Linked DNA regions of Homo sapiens. The protein of the gene in region 5 purifies or fractionates together with the protein of the main gene of each other region. This does not show direct contact. Each region holds a gene or a part of one and is shown on either strand. Other genes may lie near its edges.

Region 1 (2,712 bases), on a different chromosome or scaffold from region 5:
GTTTAGTTTCGTAAGACACTGGTTAAGACCTTTTTTCAAAGTGATTGTATCATTTTATCCTTTCACCACAAATGTATGACAATTCAGGTTGCACACAGCCTTGTCAACATTTGGTGTAGCACAGTGGCTCACGCCTGTAATCCCAGCACTTTGAGAGGCCAAGGCAGGAGGATCGCTTGAGCCCAGAAGTTCAAGACCAGCCTGGGCAACATGACAAGACCCCATCTCTACAAGAAGTTTAAAAACTAGCTGGGCATGGTGGCACACACCTGTGGTTCCAGCTACTCTCAAGCTGAGACGGGAGGATCACTTCAGCCTGGGAAGTCGAGGCTGCAGTGAGCCATGTTCACACCACTGCACATGCTGTGTTGTCCAGGCCTGGACAACAGAGCAAGACCTTGTCTTTAAAAAAAAAAAAAAAAAAAAAAAAAATTAGCTATTCTGGTGGATGTGTAATAGTATCTCATTGTGGGTTTGGTTTTCATTTCCCTAGTGACTAATGATGTTGAATGTCTTCTCAGTGCCTATTAGTTGTGTTACTTATTCAGATATCTTCTGTGAAAAACCTGACCTTGTGAAGGTAAAATCTTTTGTCAATTTGTAATTTAAAAAAACATATTTTTACAATGGGTCAAAGGAGTTCTTTATATTTTCTGGATACCAGTCTTACGTGAGATATGTTTTGTGAGTATTTTTTCCAACTATCATTTGTCTACTCATTGGCTTAATGGTTTCTTTTCAAGAGACATTTTAAATTTTGATGAAATCTAACATTTTTTCCTTTTATGCATTGCTTTCTGTGTCCTAAGAAACTATACCTACTTCAGGGTCACAAAGATACTTCATGCGGTTTTTTTAAGATAATAATTTTAGTGTTTACACTTAGGTCTGTGACCATCTCAAATTAGTTTTTATGTATGGTATGCAGTAGGAGTCAAGGCTAGTTTTCTGCCGTATGGATATGCAGTTCTGCCCAGCCGACTACTCTCACTCTTCATGTTGTGACTGAGCCTGCCCACCTGTATGCCCATGACCTGGCCTGATCCTTTACACACAACAGATGCTTCCTTCATGTTCACTGAATTGCAATACAGGTTCAGAGAACAATAGAGGATTCCTGCAATCTTTTAATGCCTTGATTTTGAAAATGGTTTTACAGAATTCATCTCCCAAAGTAAATATCAGTATATAGAGCCTGTTCAACCCTTCAGTTAGCATTTCCTGCCAAGAATGTAGGTTAAAGCAATAAGGTTAATTGCATCAATCTTTGTTTTTGGCTTCTTTAGAGTGAAGAAAGGACATGAATTCAGCTTTTTATTGAATTCTTAATATATGCTAGGCATGGTGCTTCATTGCTTCTACTACATCTTCTTGTTTGATCCTTATAGCAACCTTGTAGGAAATTTGGATGCCAGAGATTTTAAGTGACTTCTGCGTTACACAGTTACTAAGTTGCAAAGCTAGGAGTTCTCTGGGACAGGGAAATCTGGAGGAGAGCCAATAACTTGATTCTGATATAAGATTTCTATAAAAGAATTAACATCTAATTGATTGTAAAGTGTATAGAACTTGATAACAAAACTTGATATGTAATTAAACTTGTTAAATTGTGAATCATCCCAGTCAAAGATAACTAAAAAAAAATCAGTCTTCTAATATCAGTCTCTAAGGGTATAGTCATATATGCAAAAATAATAGCCCTTAGGAAATATATTTAGGCCTAAATCTCTAAGCTAAGGATGGATTTGATAGTAAAAATACATTAAAATTATAAATAGCTCCAAGGCCCACACACTGCCCATGACTTTATAAAATGTTCTTGCATTCAGGTTATACAGCCAGAGTCTTAATTCAGAAAGCCAGAGTGTTCCTCTAGTGTGTGGATTTGATTTTGTGTCTTTGTGCTTCCTGTTGCCTCCTGGTGAACGCAGTTCTGACCTTTCCTTTGTTTGCAGGTATGCTTCAGAAGTGTCCTTCTGTTGATGACTTCGTAAGTGCCCTCGTTTCCGACTTGGATCTGGACTTCGAAACTTTCCTCATGGATTCTGAATAAAAGAAACACTCTACACCTCTTAAATCAAGGTCATGTAGATAATGACTTTGTTATAAATGCTACAGCTGTGAGAGCTTGTTTCTGATTTCATTGTTCGCTTCTGTAATTCTGAAAAACTTTAAACTGGTAGAACTTGGAATAAATAATTTGTTTTAATTATTCTGGCTTTTCACCTGTTTGGCAAATATTTGAGCACATGGAAATCTCTGACCTAGTAACAACAACACTTCTACATGGCATTGTTAAATGGAGGGTATGGGCATTTCCTTAGTATAACCACTCTCCTGTTGAGCTTTTCCCTCTTTCCATGGATCTTTAATTGGTTTAATTAAATAATTAACTAAAAGCAAAATTGTTTAAGACAGAGTTTGAAGCAGTCTTCAGACAGGTTACACTTATAGTTCTTTTAAGAATGATGACCATTTCTTAAGACCACTATCTAAAGTAGGCTTAGAAAATGCACTTTAAATAGTCAATTACAGGCAACCAACAAACCAAGTGTGGTTTCCAAAATACATGTAATTATCTGTACTGTTTTTTCCTGAATGTTTAGGCAAATAGACTCAGAACACAGAGGACTGGCTTGGCAATGAAGGTAGAATGAGTAAGTGCAGGTACAATTAATAAGTGACATACCAGTGTCAAGCAACTGGTGAATC
Region 2 (3,500 bases), on a different chromosome or scaffold from region 5:
TCTCCTCCCTCCCTGGCTACTTAGTCAAGGGCTCCATCGCCCACTCGGCTGCCCAAGCTAGAAAGCTGGGACTCGCCTCTGACTTTCTGCAATCTCTACCTCACCTCGCCCTATCTAGTTCTGTGCTGTCAAGTCTTTCTCCTGAAAATCTCATCTACCTCTTTGCATTCTCACTGCCACCATCTTGCCCATGGATCCTAACTGGCCCCCTTGCCTCTTCTCAGACCTCTCTCCAATTCTTTCTTCACCCTCCAGTCAGAGTATTCTTTAAAAATTGTAAATCTGGGCCAGGTGTGGTGGCTCACTCCTGTAATCCCACCACTATGGGAGGCCAAGGCGGGTGGATCACCTGAGGTTGCGAGTTCGAGACCAGCCTGACCAACATGGAGAAACCCCACCTCTACTAAAAATACAAAATTAGCCGGGCATGGTGGCGCATGCCTGTAATCCCAGCTACTCAGGAGGCTGAGGCAGGAGAATCGCTTGAACCCGGGAGGCAGAGGTTGCAGTGAGCCAAGATCGTGCCATTGCACTCCAGCCTGGGCAACAAGAGCAAAACTCCATCTCAAAAAACAAACAAACAACACCTTCAATGGCTCCCCATTGCCCTTAAAATAAAATCTCAATTCCTAAGCCTGGCTTAAAAGATCTACTCCCGTCAGGCGCAGTGGCACACGCCTGTAATCTCAACACTTAGGGAGGCTGAGATGGGCAGAACACCTGAGGTCAGGAGTTGGGAAACCAGCCTGGCCAACATGGCGAAACCCCATCTCTACTCAAAAACACAAAAATAACCTGGGCATGGTGTTGGGTGCCTGTAATCCAGCTACTTGGGAGGCTGAGGTAGGAGAATTGCTTGAACTTGGGAGGCAGAGGTTGCAGTGAGCCAAGATTGTGCCACTGCACTCCAGCCTGGGTGAGAAAGCCAGAGTCCATCTCAAAAAAAAAAAAAAAAAAATCTCATTCCTTTCTGCAGCAGCTCCCCATTTTTTCATCTCAACCTGGGATGATCTGGACATACACATCTACATGCAGTTTCCTCAAACGCATGTTCTCCTCTGCAATGCTCTGTTCCACCTGTTGCCTGGCTAATTCCAAACAGTCCTTTGGGTTGCAGTTTACCAGTCACTGTCTTCATGAAGCCTCTTGGGGATACCAGAAAAGACTCATTAGGAGTCTCTCCTGTATGCACCTAAGATGTCCTGTACTCGCCTCCTCCTAGCACTTACGATGACACCCTCACACCACAAAACACCATCATTTCCACTTACAGATCACTGCAGCAGCCTGGTAACTGTTCCTCAAACTTACTTTCAAAAGGTTCAGGAAAAAAAAAGACACACACAACACACATACATACATGTACACGTATACAGATGCATACCTATATACACTCGTGTATAGAGAAAACCAAACATGGCCAGACATTAATAGTGAGTCTAGATGAAAGGTATAACGGGAGATCACTGTAACTTCTTTTGACTTTTCTATAAGCTTGAAATAAAAAGATGGGGAAAAAAACCAAAATAATGAAGGCAAATTCTATTTTCTTCATGAAAATCTTTAAGCTTTTTATGTGATTTCTACAGTTAAAAAGCTTACTAAAAATCAGGAGAGTGCAAAACAGGTTGGTAAGACAGCATCTGAGTTTACAGGAGTCATTCAGTGGGGCCAAAAGGACTCCAAAACTATATACTTTGAGCATCCCCAATCCAAATATCTGACATCTGAAATGCTCCAAAATCAGAAACTCTTTTTTTTTTTTTTTTTTTGAGAGTCTCACTCTGTTGCCCAGGCTGGAGTGTAGTGGCACGAATTTGGCTCACTGCTACCTCTGCCTCCCAGGTTCAAGTGATTCTCCTGCCTCAGCCTCCCGAGTAGCAGGTACTACAGGTACGCACCACCATACCTGGCTAATTTTTGTATTTTTAGTAGAGATGGGGTTTCGCCATGTTGGTCAGGTTGGTATCAAACTCCTGACCTCAGGTGATTCACCTACCTCAGCCTCCCAAAGTGCTGGAATTACAGGTGTGAGTCACGGCGCCCAGCTAGGACTAAAAAACTGTAGAGGTTGAGCATCCCTAATCCAAATATCCGATACCTGAAATGATCCAAAATCCAAAACTTTTTGAGCCCCCACACGATGCCACAATGAAAAATTCCACACGTAAGTACTTAACACAAACTTTGTTTCATGCACAAAATTATTTAAAATATTGTATAAAATTACCATCAGGCTAGGTGTATAAGATATATATGAAACATATATATATAAGTGAATTTCATGTTTAGCCTTGGGTCCCAACCCCAAGATATCTCATTATATATACGCAGATATATCAAAATCCAAAATCTGAACTACTTCTGGTTCCAAACATTTGGGACAAGGGATACTCAACCTCTATAAGCACCTAGAGAAAGGACTCTTAAGTGGTAAATCTTGAATATAATGTGTTTCTCATCTATAGTCAGCCCTCTGTATTTGTGAGTTCCACATCTGCAGATTCAGCCAACTACAATAGAAAATATTCGAAGTAAGGCCGGGTGCAGTGGCTCACGCCTGTAATCCCAGCACTCTGGGAGGCCGAGGCGGGCGGATCACAAAGTCAGGAGATTGAGACCATCCTGGCTAACACGGTGAAACCCCATCTCTACTAAAAATACAAAAAATTAGCCGGGCGTGGTGGTGGGCACCTGTAGTCCCAGCTACTCAAGAGGCTGAGGCAGGAGAATGGTGTGAACTGGGGAGGCGGAGCTTGCAGTGAGCCGAGATGGTGCCACTGGACTCCAGCCTGGGCAACAGAGTGAGACTCCATCTCAAAAAAAAAAAAAGAAGAAAATATTTGAAGTAAAACAAAACAAAACAAACACACACAGTAAGGGCACAGTAACTGACGCCTGTAATCCCAGAACTTTGGGATGCTAATGTAGGCGGATCACCTGAGGTCGAGAGTTCGAGACCAACCTGGTCAACATTGTGAAGCCCCGTCTCTACTAAAAACACAGAAAAAAAATTAGCCAGGCGTGGTGGCGCACACCTGTAATCCCAGATACTCGGGAGGCTGGGACATGAGAATCACTTGAACCAGGGAAGTGGAGGTTGCAGTGAACCAAGATTGCACCACTGCACTCCACATTCCAGCCGGGGTTATAGAGTGAGACTCCATCTCAAAAACAAACAAAAACCAACAAAAATAACAACACAACAATAAAAAATGCAAACAAAAAATACAGGTTAACAACTATTTATTTACACAGTACTTACACTGTTTTAGGTATACATACATATATATGCATGTATATATATTTATATATTTTGATATGGATATGATTTGATATATATATTAAATATATATATTTTTTGATATGGAGTCTCCCTCTGTCACCAGGCTGGAATGCGGTGGCATGATCAGAGCTCACTGCAACCTCCACCTCCTGGGTTCAAGCGATTCTCCTGCCTCAGCCTCCCGAGTAGCTGGGATTACAGGTGCGTGCCACCA
Region 3 (2,390 bases), on a different chromosome or scaffold from region 5:
TATGTATTTGTTTTGAGATAGAGTCTCGCTCTGTCACCCAGGCTAGAGTGCAGTGGTGCGGTCTCGACTTACTGCAACCTCTGCCTCCCAGGTTCAAGCGATTCTCCTGCCTCAGCCTCCCAAGTTGCTGGGACTACAGATGTTCACCACTACACCCAGCTTATTTTTTGTGGAGACGGGTTTCACTATATTGGCCAGACTGGTCTCGAACTCCTGAACTCAAGTGATCTGCCCGCCTTGGCCTCCCAAAGTGCTGGGATTACAGGCGTGAGCCACCGCGCCCGACTAATATCCATGTCTTTTAAACTACCTAGCAAGTTGCTTTTTGGCCAGACAAAACCTTAGTTGTTGAACTCCAGGGCACCTGTCTCTGAAACATATTACTGCTCATTTTCATCATAACAGCAACTGGAAAGTAATTCATTTAATTAAATGTCCTTTTCTCTTCCCCCCTTCCTAAAAGAGACTACCTTGTAAAAAATTTGAGGCAGAAACAAACATTGGCTTCCAATAAAAAATAATTCAACTTTATTAGTATGAAATATTTTGAGATAATTAGTGACCCAAATGCATGATTCTCCAATATGAAAGGTGTTCAGCATAAGCATACAATCATTTAGTAAAACTGCTCTTTATGAGACCCCCAGAAAAGCTGGAGGCACTTCCTCTTTTTGGTGGAGAGAGAAGACACTACTTAACTGGCCATTTCCTTGCTGGAGTTTATTCCGATTCCCTTTTGTCTGATTCTTCCTCCTCAAACTCGACTAAAGGAGTGTGTCTGTTGGCCTGAGCACCTTCTCTGTAGAACACTTTCTTTACTGTGCCATCCTTTGGAGACTTTATGGTATGCTGCAGAGACACATGACAGGACAAATGATAGCTGCAATACTAATGAGGACTGAGTATACACCAAGTCAAGAAAGGGAGACCAAAAATGAAAACTGTAGCCAACTTTGATGTTTTGTCATCTCTCGGTGCTTTCCAACGCTTTGTTGTTGTTGTTGTTTTTATTTTTAACATCACAGCACACAGGGAGAACAGTAACAAGTTGAGAGGAATGAACACTGGGACACAGCAGTAACCTTTCAACGATATGACTGGGAAGCTCTGGTGTAGCTCGCAGTTCTCAACTTGAGCTTCACATGAGAATTGCACCTAGGAAGCTTTCAACAGTTTTTTGTTTGCTTGCTTTTGTTTTTTTTTTTTTGTTTTTTGTTGTTGTTGCTGTTGAGACGGAGTCTCACTCTGTCACCCAGGCTGGAGTGCAACGGCATGGTCTCAGCTCACTGTAACCTCTGCCTCCCGGGTTCAAGCGGTTCTCCCACCTCAGCCTCCCAAGTAACTGGGACTACAGGTGTGTGCCACCACACCTGGCTAATTTTTGTATTTTTAGTAAAGACGGGGTTTCACTATGTTGGCCAGGCTGGTCTTGAACTCCTGACCTCATGATCCACCCACCTCGGCCTCCCAAAGTGCTGGGATTACAAGCGTGAGCCACTGCGCCTGGCCTTGTTGTTTGTTTTTTTAAATTGAGACGGAGTCTCGCTCTGTCACCCAGGCTGGAGTGCAGTGGCAAGATCTCGGCTCACTGCAACCTCTGCCTCCCAGGTTCAAGCAATTCTCCTGCCTCAGCCTCCTGAGTAGCTGGGATTACAGGCATGCACCACCATGCCTGGCTAATTTTTGTATTTTTAATAGAGATGGGGTCTCACCATGTTGGCCAAGCTGGTCGTGAACTCCTGACCTCAAATGATCCGCCTGCCTCTGCCTCCCAAAGTGCTGGGATTACAGGCATGAGCCACTGCGCCCAGCCTTTCAAAAGTATTGATCCTTGGGCTCTACTCCTGGAGATTGCAATTCAATGGGTCTGGGGAAGAATTTTTTCAAATCTCCCCAGGTGACTGTACACATGCTCCTTGACTTACGATGGGGTCAGGTCCAGATAAATCCAATGTAAGCTGAGGAGCATATTCAACGTGTATGGTTTTGCACCATTGTCAAGCTGAAAAATCCTTAATTGAACCATTGTAAGTTGAGGACTGTCTGCAATATTCAGCCAGGGCTAAGAATCACTGACCTACCATTTGAACCATCTAAAAACCTAAACAGCTAATTTAATTTGATTGCGGTTTTCACTTTGAAACTGATGCCTGGCATCCTTGGTTCGGCCTTAGAACCAAGATAATACCAACAGTTAACATTAGAAAATACCAACAGTTAACATTCCAGAAACACCAACAGTTAACATTCAGTTGGATTATCTTAGAAAATACCAACAGTTAACATTCAGTTGGATTATCGCCTGATTCCAAGCTATTGATAATTTCATTAATTTCAGAATCAGAAATGACAGGTGCAATTTCACAAAGTTAAAGTAAAACTCTTTTCTA
Region 4 (3,500 bases), on a different chromosome or scaffold from region 5:
CCAAGCTGCTGCCTCTGCGGGCTCTGCCTCTGCTCTTCAACCTGATCAAGGTAACATCCCGATCAAGGTAACCCCCCAACCTGCTCCTTCCCTCCCCAGCACCCCAAGCCGCCCACGCCCCCACATGGTTCCCTGTTCACCCCTTGCTCCTCTCCCAGCAGGAAACTGCTGCTTCCTGCAAAGGTATGAATCTTCTCCCTGGATCTGGTTTCAGCTCTGAGCATTTTGGCTTTTAGTGGGATTGCAGAGAGAGAAGCCACAAGGCTGGGGAAGGCTTGGTGGCTGGGGAAGGGAACCTGGGGACGTGGGGACTTTAATAATAATGCTACATGGATTCCTAAAAATGGTTTCCTTTTTGTGTCTTTCCTCCTAGGAGGCAGGCCTATCCTCTGCTTTGCAGGTCCAGAAACTCGATTGTGTCTGCTCCTCCAGAGGTGATTAGGCTCTGAGAGTGATGACTCATCCTAACTAAATCACCAGAGACGGGTTTATAAAGCAGATGCCATTTTATTCATTTATACTAGGAAGATAAATGGCATTGGTAATTGGCTTAGGGGAGTCATCATGAGGGCAGGTCCACTCCAGAAACCAAATTACAGACCTGAGGACTGTGCTGTGAGTGGCACAGCTGAGCGAGGTCTTTGAGGGCTGGAAGGAGCCACTCTGTGTGATGTGTGCCAGGCGCGTTATCAGTGTTCATCCTTTTGTTTTTCACATTACTCCTGGAAAGGAAATACTATTATGATCCCTTTTATAGATGAATAAACTGAGGCTCAGAGAGGTAAAGTAACTTGTCCAAGATCACTCAAATAGTAAGTTTAAAAGCCCAGGGCTTTGTGATTCTGAATCCTGTGCTCTTTCTGCCAAACTATACTGGTGCATTACGGATATGTCTGTCGAGCTGTGGGACCTTGCTAGGTAACCTTTGTTTTCTCTAGGAATGTTTCAGCAACGCATTTTGAGGAGGCAGAGTGCTGGTTAGTGCTGGCAGAATTTCAACACTTTTTAAAAATTTAAATGTATTTTTATTTTTATTTTTTGAGACAGAGTCTTACTCTGTTGCCCAGGCCTAGAGTGCAGTGGTGCAATCATAGCTCACTGCAGCTTCGACCTTCTGGGCTCAAGCAATCCTCCCACCTCAACTTCACTGAGTAGCTGGGACCTCAGGCATGTGCCACCATCCCCAGCTAATTTTTAAAATTTTAATTTTGTAGCCGGGTGCAGTGGCTCACGCCTGTAATCCCAGCACTTTGAGAGGCGAGGCAGGTAGATCACCTGAGGTCAGGAGTTTGAGACCAACCTGGCCAACATGGTTAACCAAGTGTGGTGCCGGGTGCCTGTAATCCCAGCTACTTGGGAGGCTGAGACGGGAGAATTGCTTGAGCCTGGGAGGCAGAGGTTGCAGTGAGCCAAGATTGCGCCACTGCACTCCAGCCTGAGCAACAGAGACTCCCTCTCAAAAATAAAAAAATAATAATAACAAAATTAAATTAAATTAAAAAATAAAAAATTTTTAATTTTGTAGAGATGGGGTCTCACTAGTGATCCTCTCACTTTGGCCTCCCAAAGTGCTGGGCTACAGGTGTGAACCACTGTGCCCAGCCAACTTTTTATTTTTATAGGCACCAAAGCATAAGGGCTAAGAACAGGGATTTGGTAACTCAGCTATTTGAGTTCAAATCCAGGCTCTGCTACTTATTAGCTGTGAGACTTTGGACAGGTTACTTAGTTCTGTGCCTCAGATTCCTTATCTGTGAAATGGAGATAATACTAGAACTTATATCACTGGCCTAATATGAAGATGAAATGAACTCATCCTCAGGGTCTAGGACATGGTAAGTGCTATTTAATTGTTTTTTGTTTGTTTGTTTTTTTGAGATGGAGTCTCGCTCTGTCGCCCAGGCTGGAGTGCAGTGGCACCGTCTCTGCTCACTGCAACCTCCACCTCCCGGATTTAAGTGATTCTCCCAGCTCAGCCTCCCAAGTAGCTGGGACTACAGGCACCTGCCACCATGCCCGGCTTATTTTTGTATTTTTAGTAGAGACAGGGTTTCTCCATGTTGGCCAGACTGGTCTTGAACTCCTGACCTCAGGTGATCCACCCACCTCAGCCTCCCACAGTGCTGGGATTACAGGAGTGAGCCACCACGCCCGGCCTATGCTGTTTAATTGTTTGTCACACATAGAAACAGACTTAGTTCCAGACCAGCCTGGCCAACATGGTGAAACCCCATCTCTACTAAAAATACAAAAATTAGCCGGGTGTGGTGGCACGTGTCTGTAATCCCAGCTACTCGGGAGGCTGAGGCAGGAGAATCTCTTGAGCCCAGGAAGTGGAGGTTGCAGTGAGCTGAGATCGCGCCACTGTACTCCAGCCTGGGTGACAGAGCGAGACTCTGTCTCACAAAAAAAAAAAAAGAAAAAAGAAAGAAACAAAGAAACAGGCTCGGGCAGCCCACCCCTTCTCACACATCACCTCCGACAGGAGGTCACAGCTGCTGCTGAGGCCACCCCGCCTTGAGGATGTGCCTGCCGGACCTGAGTTGCAACGAGAGGCTGCAGTCTCCCGAGGGGATTCAGAAAGCCCCCAGTTATTGAAAACCCAGCAGAATTGTCAGCCCTGCACCCCCAAGCCCTCTTGGAGGGAGGGTTGCCCTGGCAGAGCACTGAGCCCATCTGTTTATTCACCATCCTGTGGATTCAGCTTCACAGGGTGACATATTCTGTCACAGGTTGGTGTTGGAGAAGGGGCACTATCACCTCTATGAGAGTAACCTCACATATAAACATGAAAACAAGCCAGGTGCAGTGGGGCACACTTGTAGTCACAGCTGTCAGGAGGCCAAGGCAGGAGGATCGCTTGAGCCTAAGAGTTAAAGGCTACAGTGAGCTATGATCACACCACTGCACTCCAGCCTAGGTGACACAGCAAGACTCTGTCTCTAAACAAATAAAAATTAAAACATTAAAAAGTAAAAAAAACCCAGATGTTAAAGGACGTGCCACAAAACAACGTCATGGTTTGTTGCCAGAGGAATGACCCTTCTTCCCTTTCAGAACCATTGCAGGAATGGGGGAAGATATCACAAACCCCCAACATTTATTTCTTTGTCAGATATTTGAGTGCCTGCTGTGTGCCAGGCAATGTGTTAGAATCTGAGGAAATGTCAGTTAACAAAACTACAGGTTTCAGCCCTTTCTGATCTAGTCTGAGCTCCTCTCCCAGAAGGAAACTGCTACTTCCTGCACAGTTTGAGCACAAAAATATCAATGTAACCATATAAGGAAAAATTACAGCAAATGCCTGGGAAGAAGGAGCCCCAGATGCCATGAAAGTGTATAGTGGGGGAACTGGTCTGCGGGGTCAGGAGAGCCTCTTTGTGGAAGGGCATGTCGTCTGACCCTTGTAGCATTAGCCAAAGGAAGAAGTTGGGGGAGGGGAAATGCCCCAGGAAAGGGCAGCACCCTGGAGGCTTTTTTTTTTTTTTTTTCTCTTGAGA
Region 5 (3,500 bases):
ATGCCCACTCAACATCTCCACTTTTAACAAGGAGATGGAGATTTCTAAGAAGACTCTCAAATTGACAACTCCATAAACAAACTGTTTTCTTGCCACCAGACAGCTCATCCCACAGTTCTTCCCCCATCATTTAGTGCTTCCAGTTGTTCAGGCCATTCCTCTTAGAGCTCTCCTTGACTCCTCCTTCTCATTCCACACTGATTCTGTCAGCAAGCCTTATTGGGTCTAGGTTGAAAATACATTCAGAATCTCATCTCTTCTCCCACTACTGCTCCCCGGGCAAGCTACCATGCTTGCCTCTTAATGCACTGGTCATCTTCTTTACCTGTTTCCCCTACAGTTACATTGTCAACCCAACATCCTGAGTGAGCCTTTAAAAAACATATTAGATTATGTCACTCCTCTGCTCAAAATACCCAATGCTTCTCAAAAAAAATTAAACATAGAATTACCATATGATCCAGCAATTTCATTTCTGCATGTATATCCAAAAGAAGTAAAAGCAGAGACTCTAACAGATACTCACATGCCAGTGTTTATAGCAACATTATTGACAATAGCCAAAATGTGGAAGCTACCCAAGTGTCTATCAACAGGTGAATGGATTATTTAAAATGTGGTCGAGGCCAGGTGCAGTGGCTCATGCCTGTAATCCCAGCACTTTGAGAGGCCAAGGCGTGAGGATCATGAGGTCAGGAGTTCGAGACCAGCCTGGCCAACATGGTGAAACCCGGTCTCTACTAAAAATACAAAAATTAGCTGGGTGTGGTGGCGGGCACCTGTAACCCCAGCTATCTGGGAGGCTGAGGCAGGAGAATTGCTTGAAACTGGAAGGCAGAGGTTGCAGTGAGTGGAGATCGCACCACTGCACACCAGCCTGGGCAAAAGAGCAAAACTCTGTCTCAAAAAAATAAAAATAAAATAAAAAATAAAAATAAATAAAATGTGGTCTATCCATACAATGGAATATTTTTCAGTCTTAAAAGGGAAGGAAATTTTGACACATGCTATGACACGGATGAACCTTGAGGACATTATGCTAAGTGAAAGAAGCCAAATTGCAAAACAAAAGGACAGACTGCATGATGCCAGTTACACGAAATACCTAGAGTATCAAATTCACAGAGATGAAAAGTAAAATAGAGGTTACCAGGGGTGAGGGGAGAGGGTAATGGGGTGTTATTGGGTAATGGGGGCACAGTTCTCATTTGGAAAGATAAAGTAAATTCTGGAAATGGATGGTGATTGTGGTTGCACAACAATGTGAATGTATTTAATGACATTAAACTGTACACTTAAAATGGTTAAAAGGGTACATTTATGATATATGTATATATATGTTTATATGTGTATGTATGTATATATATGTGTGTGTGTATATATATATATATATATATATATATATATATATATATATAGCCACGATTTAAAAAGAAACCTCCCATGGCTTTTCACCTCACTCAGAGTAAAATCCAGAACCATCAAGATCCTTCCTAAGCTGCTCCTATTGGCTTCTCAGTAATTCTGTTGGCTCTCTGACCTCCGTTCCTGACACCTTTCCCCTCACACCACCCCCTCCAGACCACTCCCCACTTTCTGTTCTTGGATCCTCTAGACAAGCTGCTCTGGTACCTTCCGCTGGCCACAAAACCCAGTCCGTAGCTGCTCTGGGAGTGCTCGACCATCTTGGGGGCCCCGGTGGTTCCGCTGGTAAAGTAGATGGCCAGCGGGTCTCGACTCTTTGTCCTCATGCAGTTGTGCTCTGTAGAAGCCTCCCTGTAAAACGTAAATACACTAGGTGGCACTACCACGGTAAAAACAGTTAGTAGCACCAATAATATGTGTAACAACAATATGACTACCGTTTCATAAATACCACATGTGAGGTGCTGTGCTGAAAGCTCTGGCTTGGGTAATCTGCAACCACCTCATGGGGTAGGTACTATCATTATAACCCTTTTGCAGACCAGGAAACTGAGGCTCAAAATAGATAAATAATTCACGCAAAAGAGTCCATGCTTTCTTACCAAGGTATGAGGACTTTCTGGTAGAACACACACATGTCCATGTCTATAATTCTGCACATTTAGGCACAGCTTCCACCCCCATCCCAATTTCTAATAATTTAGAACTCTTTTCTAAAGGTTTCCCCCAATATGGGGTTTTGAGATCTAGGTAATTCCCAAAGTTCTGTGATCTGGATGATCAGCTAATCCACGGGCTCTCATCCCTGGCTGCACTGTGAAGTCCCCTGGTAAATTTTTGGAAGAAACTTGTCTGTATCCACCCTGAACAAAATAAAATCAGAATCTTTAATGTTTTCTTAAATGCTTCTCAGTAATTCTAGTAACAGCCAAAATTGAGAACCACTGATCTAGGCCCACCTGACAGCTCTCAAAATCATATGAGCCGATTTTTTTTTGTTTTGTTTTTGAGATGGTGTTTCGCTTTTGTTGCCCAGGCTGGAGTGCAATGGCGGGATCTTGGCTCACTGCAACCTCTGCCTCCCGGGTTCAAGTGATTCTCCTGCCTCAGCCTCCCAAATAGCTGGGAATATAGGCGTGCGCCACCACGCCCAGCTAATTTTGTATTTTTAGTAGAGACGGGGTTTCTCCATGCTGGTCAGGCTGGTCTCAAACTCCCGACCTCGGGTGATCTGCCTGCCTCAGCCTCCAAAAGTGCTGGGATTACAGGCGTGAGCCATGGCGCCTGGCCCTATGGGCTGATTTTTTTAAAAAAGATCCCCAGGGCTCTTGCTCAGCTGTGTCTGGTTAAGTAGGTCAGATGTGAGGCCTTGTCATCTGTATTCAAAACAGCAGCCAGGTGAATCTGATGCAGCTGGTCTGTGGGGTGAGCATTCATAACTCAATGGTTCAGGCCCCTGAGAGGCTCCTTTTGGGTTCTGGCTTCCAATCAGGACAAAGTCTCAAATTCTGAGATGGGTTTCCACCAGGCCCTTGCTCCAAGGCACATCTGCTCTCGGCTCTGCCCACTCCTGACTTGACTACTTTTTAGCACCTTGGGCAAGTCACTTTAGTTTTCCAAGTCTCAGTTTCCTCATCTGTAAAACTGGGTTAAAGGGCCCATCACAATGTCCTGTTCAGGGATTAAATAAGGTGATGTTTGATCCATTATGGTGTTCTGAACACCAAACACAATGCTTGTCGTGAAATAGATGTTCATTAAATCTTCGCTGCATGAATGAATGAAGGTGAAGGCTTACATAGCACAGTATCTAGCGATACACTAAGTACCCAATACATGGCCACTAGTTTATTATTAACTGACCACCTGCTATGTGCTAAATGCACCATATTGGTTATTTCATGTACTCTGAATGGTAGCTCTAATAACTACCACCGCATTATAGAAGCAAATGAAGCACAGAAAAGCTGCTGACAAATCCAGCACTGACTGAATGAGGGACCTTGAACATTAAGGTAGGGACCAGGATTATGCTCAGGTCAGCCTGGCTGCCAATGGGAGTGCTCCTCTCTGAT
Region 6 (3,500 bases), on a different chromosome or scaffold from region 5:
GTTATTATTATTATTTTTTAAGAGACAGGATTTCACCACGTTGGCCAGGCTGGTCTCGAACTCCGGACCTCAAGCGATCCACCCGCCTCGGTCTCCCAAAGTTCTGGGATTACAGGCATGAGCCACTGCGCCTAGCTGGGTTTTAAAAATTTTACTTTTTTTTTTTTTAGAGATAGGGTATTGCTCTGTCACCCATGCTGGAATATGCAGTGGTGTGATCACGATTCACTGCAGCCTTGAACTTCTGGGATCCAGCAATCCTCCTGAGTAGCTGGGACCACAGGTGCACGCTACCATGTCTGGCTAATTTTTTCAAAAATTTTTTGTAGATCCACAAACCTTGAGGCAAAAAAAAAAAAACAAAAAAACAAACAAACAAAAAAGACATGGTCTTGCTATATTGTCCAGGCTGGTCTTGAACTTATGGGCTCAAGTGATCCTCCTGCCTCAGCCTCTCCAAGTGCTGGGATCACAGGCATAAGCCACTGTGCCTGCCCATACATCAGGTTTTTAGTTCAAATGCACATGCAGTCTCGGGGCCCCTCCTCAACCCCGCTGCACTGCCCCAGGGCACCTGCCTCTCAGAATGACGTGTCCACCGTTGCCTCCGTCCCCTCCATCAGGGCCTCCAAACTCCTTGCGGGGCTCACTGTGGAAGCAGCTTGCCCCAGCGCCTCCGTTTCCTCCACAGACAAGCACTCTCCGATAGTCCACAAAGTACCTTTTCTACAGAGAACACAAATATCCCACGTCATCTCAACACTCCAAGGTCCTTTCAAGACACCATGCATCCATTTGAGATGTACATCTTCTATCTATAACAGCCTATTAAAATTAGAGGTTAATGACACTAATATTGCTAATCACTTCTAAATTCCGAAGATAAAAAACAGTCTCCACAAGTCAGTTGCATTTGTAGACTGAGGTAAATCCACAATGCAGATGTAAGTATTCTGTGTGGACCTACACTTCAAAAATTCAGCATTTCTTACTCTGGGTGAGACTGATTTAAAAACCAACAACAAAAATCAGCATTTCTAAGCTAAAAAACCCACATCTTGTTTAGGAAATATTCCTTATATAATGTGTCTTTCCATTCAAAAAAACCATTCCTGAAATCATAGATCTTTACTCTTAGAAAGTTCTAGTTTCCCAGGATGCGATAGAGAAATAGGAAGTTAGAATCGTTCCTGGACAATTACCAGGCTTTCGACTCTGAAGAAAGAGTATTTTCTGGGGCCTGATGAAAACAGGGCTCATTTAAAAAATGTGGTGAGGCAAACAGAGCCCCTCGCTGGAGGGAAAGCTGTTTTGTTTTTTGTGGTTTTTTTTGAGGCAGAGTCTCGCTCTGTCGCCCAGGCTGGAGTGCAACGGTGGGATCTCGGCTCACTGCAAGCTCTGCCTCCCAGGTTCATGCCATTCTCCTGCCTCAGCCTCCTAAGTAGCTGGGACTACAGGCACCCGCCACTGCGCCCGGCTAGTTTTTTGTATTTTTAGTAGAGACGGGGTTTCACCGTGTTGGCCAGGATGGTCTCGATCTCCTGACCTCGTGATCCACCCGCCTCGGCCTCCCAAAGTGCTGGGACTACAGGCGTGAGCCACTGTGCCCGGCTAGGAAAGCTGTTCTGTAGGTCACTAAGGTAGGTGCAATCTGGATGAAGAGAGAGAACCAACCAGGTTACTGTTCAACACACAACAGCTCCTACCACAGGAGGGTCAGCTCCCGCAGCCCAGGGTGCTGCAACCTCACCACACGCTGGGGAGGACACCTGGCTTCTGCCCACGTGCACAGACAGACGTGCCCTGCCCCTGACAGCCACCCAGGGCTGCTGCCTCTGCACTCCGATCCAATACTCCTCAAATGCAGTTTTTTTTTCTTTTAAAAGAAAATTTTAAAACATTTAAAATTTTTAAACACAAAAATTTAAACACAAAAAAAAATTTAAAAATTTAAAACACAAACATTCTAAGATTCTTTGGCACCACCATGTGGGAAAACCACGAACTGTTATTTCCAAATTTCAATGTGTAATGCTGTCATGCGCCAACGCAAGCAAAATCCACCAGACAGGGAGGAAAGCCCCACTGGTGAGCACTTCGTGGAGGACAAAACCTCGACTCACTTTCTCTCCTGGGGAGGAGACAAGCCTGTGCTAACGCTTCAGCTATTTGAGCACACATCCCACCAAAGCGGCTTTTCCACTGGAAGTGCTGTTTGTCCCAGTAATGCTTATCTGGAGCCCCTCCATTCAGCAGGAAACGAAGGGAGTCATAAACGTGCATTTTCTTGAATTTATTAGAGACAATTCATGCTTTAAATAGGAGGTTTTGGTAAATAGAACAAGAAAAACTTATAAGGCTTAAAGAACCATAAAACGGAAGGTATATTCCCCCCTACTTGTTTTATTTTTATTTATTTATTAATTTAAAAAGGTTTTTTTTTTTTTTTTAGTAGAGACAGGGTTTCACCATGTTGGCCAGGCTGGTCTCGAACTCCTGACCTCAAGTGATCCGCCTGCCTTAGCCTCCCAAAGTGTTGGGATAACAGGCATGAGCCACCGTGCCCAGCCTCCGCATTTGTTTTAAATTAAGAAATAGCCACACATATGAAAGGATATATGTAACATACATGTAAAATACACAGGCTCATGGGAAAATGAGCAGCCTGTATCACGGCTTTCCAAGCACGCAGCGCCTCTCCCAGCCTGCTGGGATTTGCTGAGCGTGGGATTTAGCACGCAGGCCTGCGTTTCACCCTGTCATTTTCAAGAAGCTCCACGTGCCCCATCACTAAGATCATCAACTAACATCAACAGAGATGAGACCCAGAGGAGGACCCGAAACCACACCCTGTGCCTTCTGAGGAGGAGACAGGCAAGCTGCTCTAACTCCAGGAGTCTCACCAGCTTTTTCTCAGAGAGCAGCTTCTTCCCCGGGAGTTCCTGATGCTTGGCGAGGTCCGCACGGCCGACCGAGAGCAGCCTGGGAGAAGCCCGCTGTGGCAGTAGCCGGCTGGGCTTCAGGCCAGCCCATGTGGACAAAGCCCAATGCCCCACGCCCTGAAACACGGTCCTCAATCTTGCTGAGAAACACCTTGCAGGTGCCATGGCCCCTACAGAAGTCAAATTGGCAAAATGAGATACTTGGTTTAATGCTGGGCATGAAACAGAAACTGAAGACGAGGGCCTCATGCAGCAGGTCTTTGTGCACGTTTCTGAAACAAACAAGTGAACTGATGAATCCGATTTTCCTGGTCACTCACCCTCTCGGCCCTGGGTCACGTCTTGCCCTCTGACCCGTCAGCCTATCTGTGACTTGGGAGCAGGATTTCTGTACAAAGGATTTAAAACATGAAATCTTCCACAACACTGGACACATCCTCTTATGGAATAGCAAGGTTCCGCTCAACGAAAATATTAAAAAGGAAATCTGAAGTGCAAGTCAAAATTTCTTGAAAAGAAAAACACCCATTTATTAAAATGTTATCAAGAGTGTTATCC
Region 7 (4,143 bases), on a different chromosome or scaffold from region 5:
TTCTCACAGCAAACCCGTGGGGTGGGAACTGTTACTCCCATTTTGTAGATGGGGAAACTGAGGCTTAGGGAAGGTAAGTGGTATATAGCCAGGTCTCATAGCCAGGGAGTGGAAAGCTGGGGTTCAAATCCAGGGCTGTAGAATACCAAAGTCCACACTCTCCATTGCTCCCTCATTGTGATATGACTTTAAAAGAGGGTGGAGGAGGGAGAAATAAGGGTTTGGTGGGGAGGAGGCTGTAGGAAGGAATGGAGAGAAAGAGAAGACCCCCACTTTGAATCACCCGAATTGCATTCTTTTTTCCTTTGTTCTTTGTAGCTGTGACTTGAAGCTCCACCAATATCCCTATGTCCCCACGAGCCCCAGGAAAGCTGGCCCCAGCCTGCAGACCTCATTGATTTTGTTGTCCAGCTTCATCACTTCCCCTGGTTTCATTAGTTTCTTTTGAAAGGCACTCCGGACCCGCTGCCAGTCTTCCCCTTCCCTGTGAGAGAAGCAGGAATACATTTAGAGCACACTGAAAAGAAAAGAAGGAGATGCAGAAATACTCCAGCTGCAACTTCAGGAACCATAAAATCAAACAAACACTGAGAATCATGCCAAGAAATAGCCAGAGAATATTAGCATCAGAATATTTGGGATAAAATAGTGATCATCTTTTGACAATAGTTTGACAATAGGATGAAAAAGCACCTTTCCTCCTAGTCAAAGATTGCACCAAAAAGTTGAAGTCCAGATAATTTGGGTTCAGGGATTTTGAGGTGTCCTTGCAGGGAGTGGGGCTGGGAGGCCTGGGGACAATTCCTAGCGGTAAAAGGGGGCATGTGAACACCCCATCACCAGCAACTCAGATCTGTTTGAGGGAAGAATCTTGTCTTCTTTCAACTCATTGGTGTGGGCTTCATATTTACAAAATATCTCAGATTTAGAATTTTGCCATCGCCTCCAAATAATAACATACAGTCAGAGAGTCACTGGAGTAATAAAAAGCCTTTTGCGATCGTGCACTTGTAGGCACCTGCCCCATAGCAGACCATACAGCCTGTGAAGCACCGTGAATTAATAGGGTTTTTAATTCCAGTCATTATATCCTGGAAAATATAACGATTAGGCATTACAGTTTGGGGGTAAATAAAGGTGCTAACTTGTTAAATGCTAACAACTAAAAAGCAGAAGAATCACATCCCATAGTAGCATTTGTCGACCTAAAACACAACTTTGATATCCCTCCTTATTCCACCTTTACAAGTAGAAATAAGGCATGTCCCCCAATCCTCTGCAGAAAATGTCACTGTAAAAAGCCAAAGAGGCTAACTCCTCGCTTTTGAGCTTACAAGGTGTTTCAGGGAGTTTTAAGGGATAATTTTGTTTGTATAAGATGTTTGCCTGGTACGCTGACTTCAGAACCTCATCCTGCCCAAGAGTCTGAACACCACAGTTGGTACAACCCTGTTTTGGCGTTTCTTTGATGGGAGGGTGTGGCCCTGCCCTGTTGCCAGAGAGAACGCAGGTGCTGGGTGCACAGCACGGCTTTTCCGTGGACCGACTCTAATCTGTACAAGAGCTCAGGGTTGCGATGGCACGGGAGAGGGGCTTTGGTATCCGCCCTACGTAAGAAGCTTCCAACCCCAGGGAACTCTAACTCCGCCTCTTCACAATTTCCAGGCGCCGTCAGGCTCATCAGGTCTGGCCGCATGCCCAGGTCCCTCGGATTGGACTCACAGGATCAGCAGCCCGTAGCCTTCTTTGCGGTAGTCGCGATAGGCCTTCCACGGTTTGATCTCCAGCCGCTGCGGGTACGCGCTCTCGGTGCGGTACAGCGCTTCCAGCAGGCATGGCGAGCCCAGGTGCACCGACTCAAAGGAACCCAACTTCATGCGGAAAATCTTGCCATACTTCTTGTGGTACTCCACCTGCAGCCGGCCGGGCACAGCGCGGTGTCAGCGCGCATCCTCCGCCGTGCCCGAAGCGCTTTCCCTCCTCCCGCCTCCTTCCTCCTAGGGGACCGGGGACCCTCCCTGCCCAGACGCCGAAGCGCACCATGCGCCCGAGGCGCGCATGTCGGGGAGGGTTTGGAGCGCCACTGGGAGGGCGGAAGAGGGAGGAGAGAGTCAGGGGCGCGAAAAGGGGTTTACCAGGGTGTCGTGCTGTTTCTTGAGACCCCCTTTCCAGAGAATCTGCAGCAGGCTGCCCAGCAGTGGCCAGCTGGTGGGGCCCGGCAGGGCGGCCGCGTTCTGAGTCTCGCCACCAGCTGTCAGCGGGCAGACTGGCACCTCTCGCGGCTGAGGGGACGTGTACGCCGTAGATGTCACCAGTCTCGGGGGCTGCCTCGGACTGCGCAGCTGCTGCAGGAAGGCGGCAAGCGAGCGGCTCTTGCTGATGGGGGAGCTCATGGCAGCGGGGGACACCGGAGCGCGGGAAGGCAGGAGGATGGGGTGGGGCGAGGTTGGTACGAGGTGCTAGTGGGAGTCGGGGCTTAACGATTCTGGGAAAAGGAAGCAAAGAGGGCCAGCTGGTGTGATGGAGCGGGGTGAGGCGGGACAGGCAGCAGAAAGGACCTCGGCGAGGATGCTCGACGCTGCACCACGCGACAGCCTCAGAGCATTGGTGCCTCCTTGCACTGGCCGCAGGGGCTGGAAGAGGGTGGCCGGTGTCTGGGGACCTCTTGAAAAGGGAAAGCTGGGAGTCCTCCTGTTGGTCCGCAAGGCTGACCTCTAGGGTCTGGCTGGAGCCACGGGGAGGTGTCAAGGAGGGTAGATGAGATGCTGCTGGCGCTGCGTTTCCTCCTGTCCCTCTCCATGTTCCTATGCCCAGGGACCATGCATTTATGGAGACAGAGCATGCCCTGGGTGGCCAATGAGCACGCAGAGGAGGGCGGAGTGGCCCCCGGCTGGCCAGACTCCGAGGGACGCGGGACCCAGGGGAGGGGGGGTGGAAGGAGGATGGAGTCAGCGAGGTGAGCGAGGGCGTCCGGGCCTGGGGTGACCGGGGCTATGTTCGCTGGGCGCGGGAGGTGGGGTGGGGGCGGCAGACTCCACCCCGGAGATAACCCCCAGGAAGTCATGCGAAGCCCGGAGTTCACCGGGTGTGCTTCGAACGCGCCTCCCCGCCCTCCCCCGGCGGGCAGGAGCCGGCAGCGGCGGCCGTGGTTGCCGCCCGGCGCTTGCACAATCGCGATGCCGGGCGGGCGAGGTCCCCGAGTGCGGGCCCAGAAAAGCTGCCGGCGTCTGCCAGGGCCCCGGGGAGCCCGGGCGCCTCCCGGGGAGCCAGATACCCCCAGCCTGGACTGAAGTGATTTTTTTTTTTTTTTTGCCTTTTTTTTTTTGGAGGAAGTTTGGCTTTCTGCGCCTCCCAGGGTGGGGAGGATTTGAGTCTTACTGAAATGCACCAGAAGAGGAGACTTTCTTAACTTGAGCAAGAAGGGGAGTTTGTAGAATTTCCTTCCTGCTGTTTCATGTTTGGTTGTTTTGCAGATTAAATGAATTAATGCACGTAAAGCGGCAACAACGAAGCCTTGTCTATAGTCAACAGTCAATAAAAGTTAGTTGCTGTTGTTACTTCTTTAGGAAGTTAGGAAATGCGCCTTGAGAGCGTGGCTTGCACCAACGATGCTTGAATTCAGGCTGGGCCACCTCCCCTATGTCCACTGCCCGCCTCTGTTCTTCTACACCGACTACCTTGTGCAAAGGAGGGGCACACAGAGCTTGAAACCACCGCCCCCAGTACTCCCCCTCTCCCCCAAGGTGCGTCCTAGGCAGGTCCAGTGACAAACATACACAATTTCTAGAGTTACCGCGGCTGGCAAGAGTAGAACTCGCTTTGCTAATTCAGGAACGGAAGTTGGAGATTTTTGTTGATTGTTTTAAAGTGGCTCGAATCCTTTCAACCTGATCCAATACAAAACTACCACCAGCCAGGGAGGAGGGGAGGGACATTCTGTTTCCTCGCCCTGCTTTTCAATTACGTGTCTCAGTCATTTTTGCCCCAAGTGTTGGCAAATCCTTCCCTGGTAAATTCTTTTGTAAGCCTCTAGTTTGTTTCTTAAAAATCTTTTGCAGTCCAACTTAAGCTTTAACACCATCATTTCTGATTTGTCTGGAGGGGCTAATGACTGTTTATGTTAATAAAAATAATAGCTATTGA

Evidence for each region.
Region 1: the proteins of ACSM5 (region 5) and MIPEP purify together in Homo sapiens (affinity purification with mass spectrometry; one large-scale study listed by BioGRID and IntAct). This does not show direct contact.
Region 2: the proteins of ACSM5 (region 5) and ACAD10 purify together in Homo sapiens (affinity purification with mass spectrometry; one large-scale study listed by BioGRID and IntAct). This does not show direct contact.
Region 3: the proteins of ACSM5 (region 5) and MCCC1 purify together in Homo sapiens (affinity purification with mass spectrometry; 2 studies listed by BioGRID and IntAct, with this or other methods). This does not show direct contact.
Region 4: the proteins of ACSM5 (region 5) and NLRX1 purify together in Homo sapiens (affinity purification with mass spectrometry; one large-scale study listed by BioGRID and IntAct). This does not show direct contact.
Region 6: the proteins of ACSM5 (region 5) and MTG2 purify together in Homo sapiens (affinity purification with mass spectrometry; one large-scale study listed by BioGRID and IntAct). This does not show direct contact.
Region 7: the proteins of ACSM5 (region 5) and CYP24A1 purify together in Homo sapiens (affinity purification with mass spectrometry; one large-scale study listed by BioGRID and IntAct). This does not show direct contact.

What each region holds. Positions count from the first base shown.
Region 1 is NC_000013.11:23,729,689-23,732,400, reverse strand, and holds the end of MIPEP (mitochondrial intermediate peptidase), read left to right. Parts: intron 1-1,955; coding exon 1,956-2,053; 3' UTR 2,054-2,212; downstream 2,213-2,712. UniProt on the Homo sapiens protein: Cleaves proteins, imported into the mitochondrion, to their mature size.
Region 2 is NC_000012.12:111,689,053-111,692,552, reverse strand, and holds part of ACAD10 (acyl-CoA dehydrogenase family member 10), read right to left. Parts: intron 1-3,500.
Region 3 is NC_000003.12:183,014,718-183,017,107, forward strand, and holds the end of MCCC1 (methylcrotonoyl-CoA carboxylase subunit alpha, mitochondrial isoform 1 precursor), read right to left. Parts: intron 850-2,390; coding exon 721-849; 3' UTR 501-720; downstream 1-500.
Region 4 is NC_000011.10:119,175,225-119,178,724, forward strand, and holds part of NLRX1 (NLR family member X1 isoform 1 precursor), read left to right. Parts: coding exon 1-50; intron 51-3,500.
Region 5 is NC_000016.10:20,419,534-20,423,033, reverse strand, and holds part of ACSM5 (acyl-coenzyme A synthetase ACSM5, mitochondrial), read right to left. Parts: exon of another isoform or gene 3,252-3,500; intron 1,777-3,251; coding exon 1,633-1,776; intron 1-1,632. UniProt on the Homo sapiens protein: Catalyzes the activation of fatty acids by CoA to produce an acyl-CoA, the first step in fatty acid metabolism.
Region 6 is NC_000020.11:62,193,028-62,196,527, reverse strand, and holds part of MTG2 (mitochondrial ribosome-associated GTPase 2), read right to left. Parts: exon of another isoform or gene 3,192-3,500; coding exon of another isoform or gene 3,108-3,191; coding exon 2,904-3,107; coding exon of another isoform or gene 2,850-2,903; intron 1,652-2,849; exon of another isoform or gene 1,515-1,651; intron 727-1,514; coding exon 579-726; exon of another isoform or gene 575-578; intron 1-574. UniProt on the Homo sapiens protein: Plays a role in the regulation of the mitochondrial ribosome assembly and of translational activity. Displays GTPase activity. Involved in the ribosome maturation process.
Region 7 is NC_000020.11:54,171,187-54,175,329, forward strand, and holds the start of CYP24A1 (1,25-dihydroxyvitamin D(3) 24-hydroxylase, mitochondrial isoform 1 precursor), read right to left. Parts: upstream 2,801-4,143; 5' UTR 2,394-2,800; coding exon 2,136-2,393; intron 1,914-2,135; coding exon 1,723-1,913; intron 485-1,722; coding exon 391-484; intron 1-390.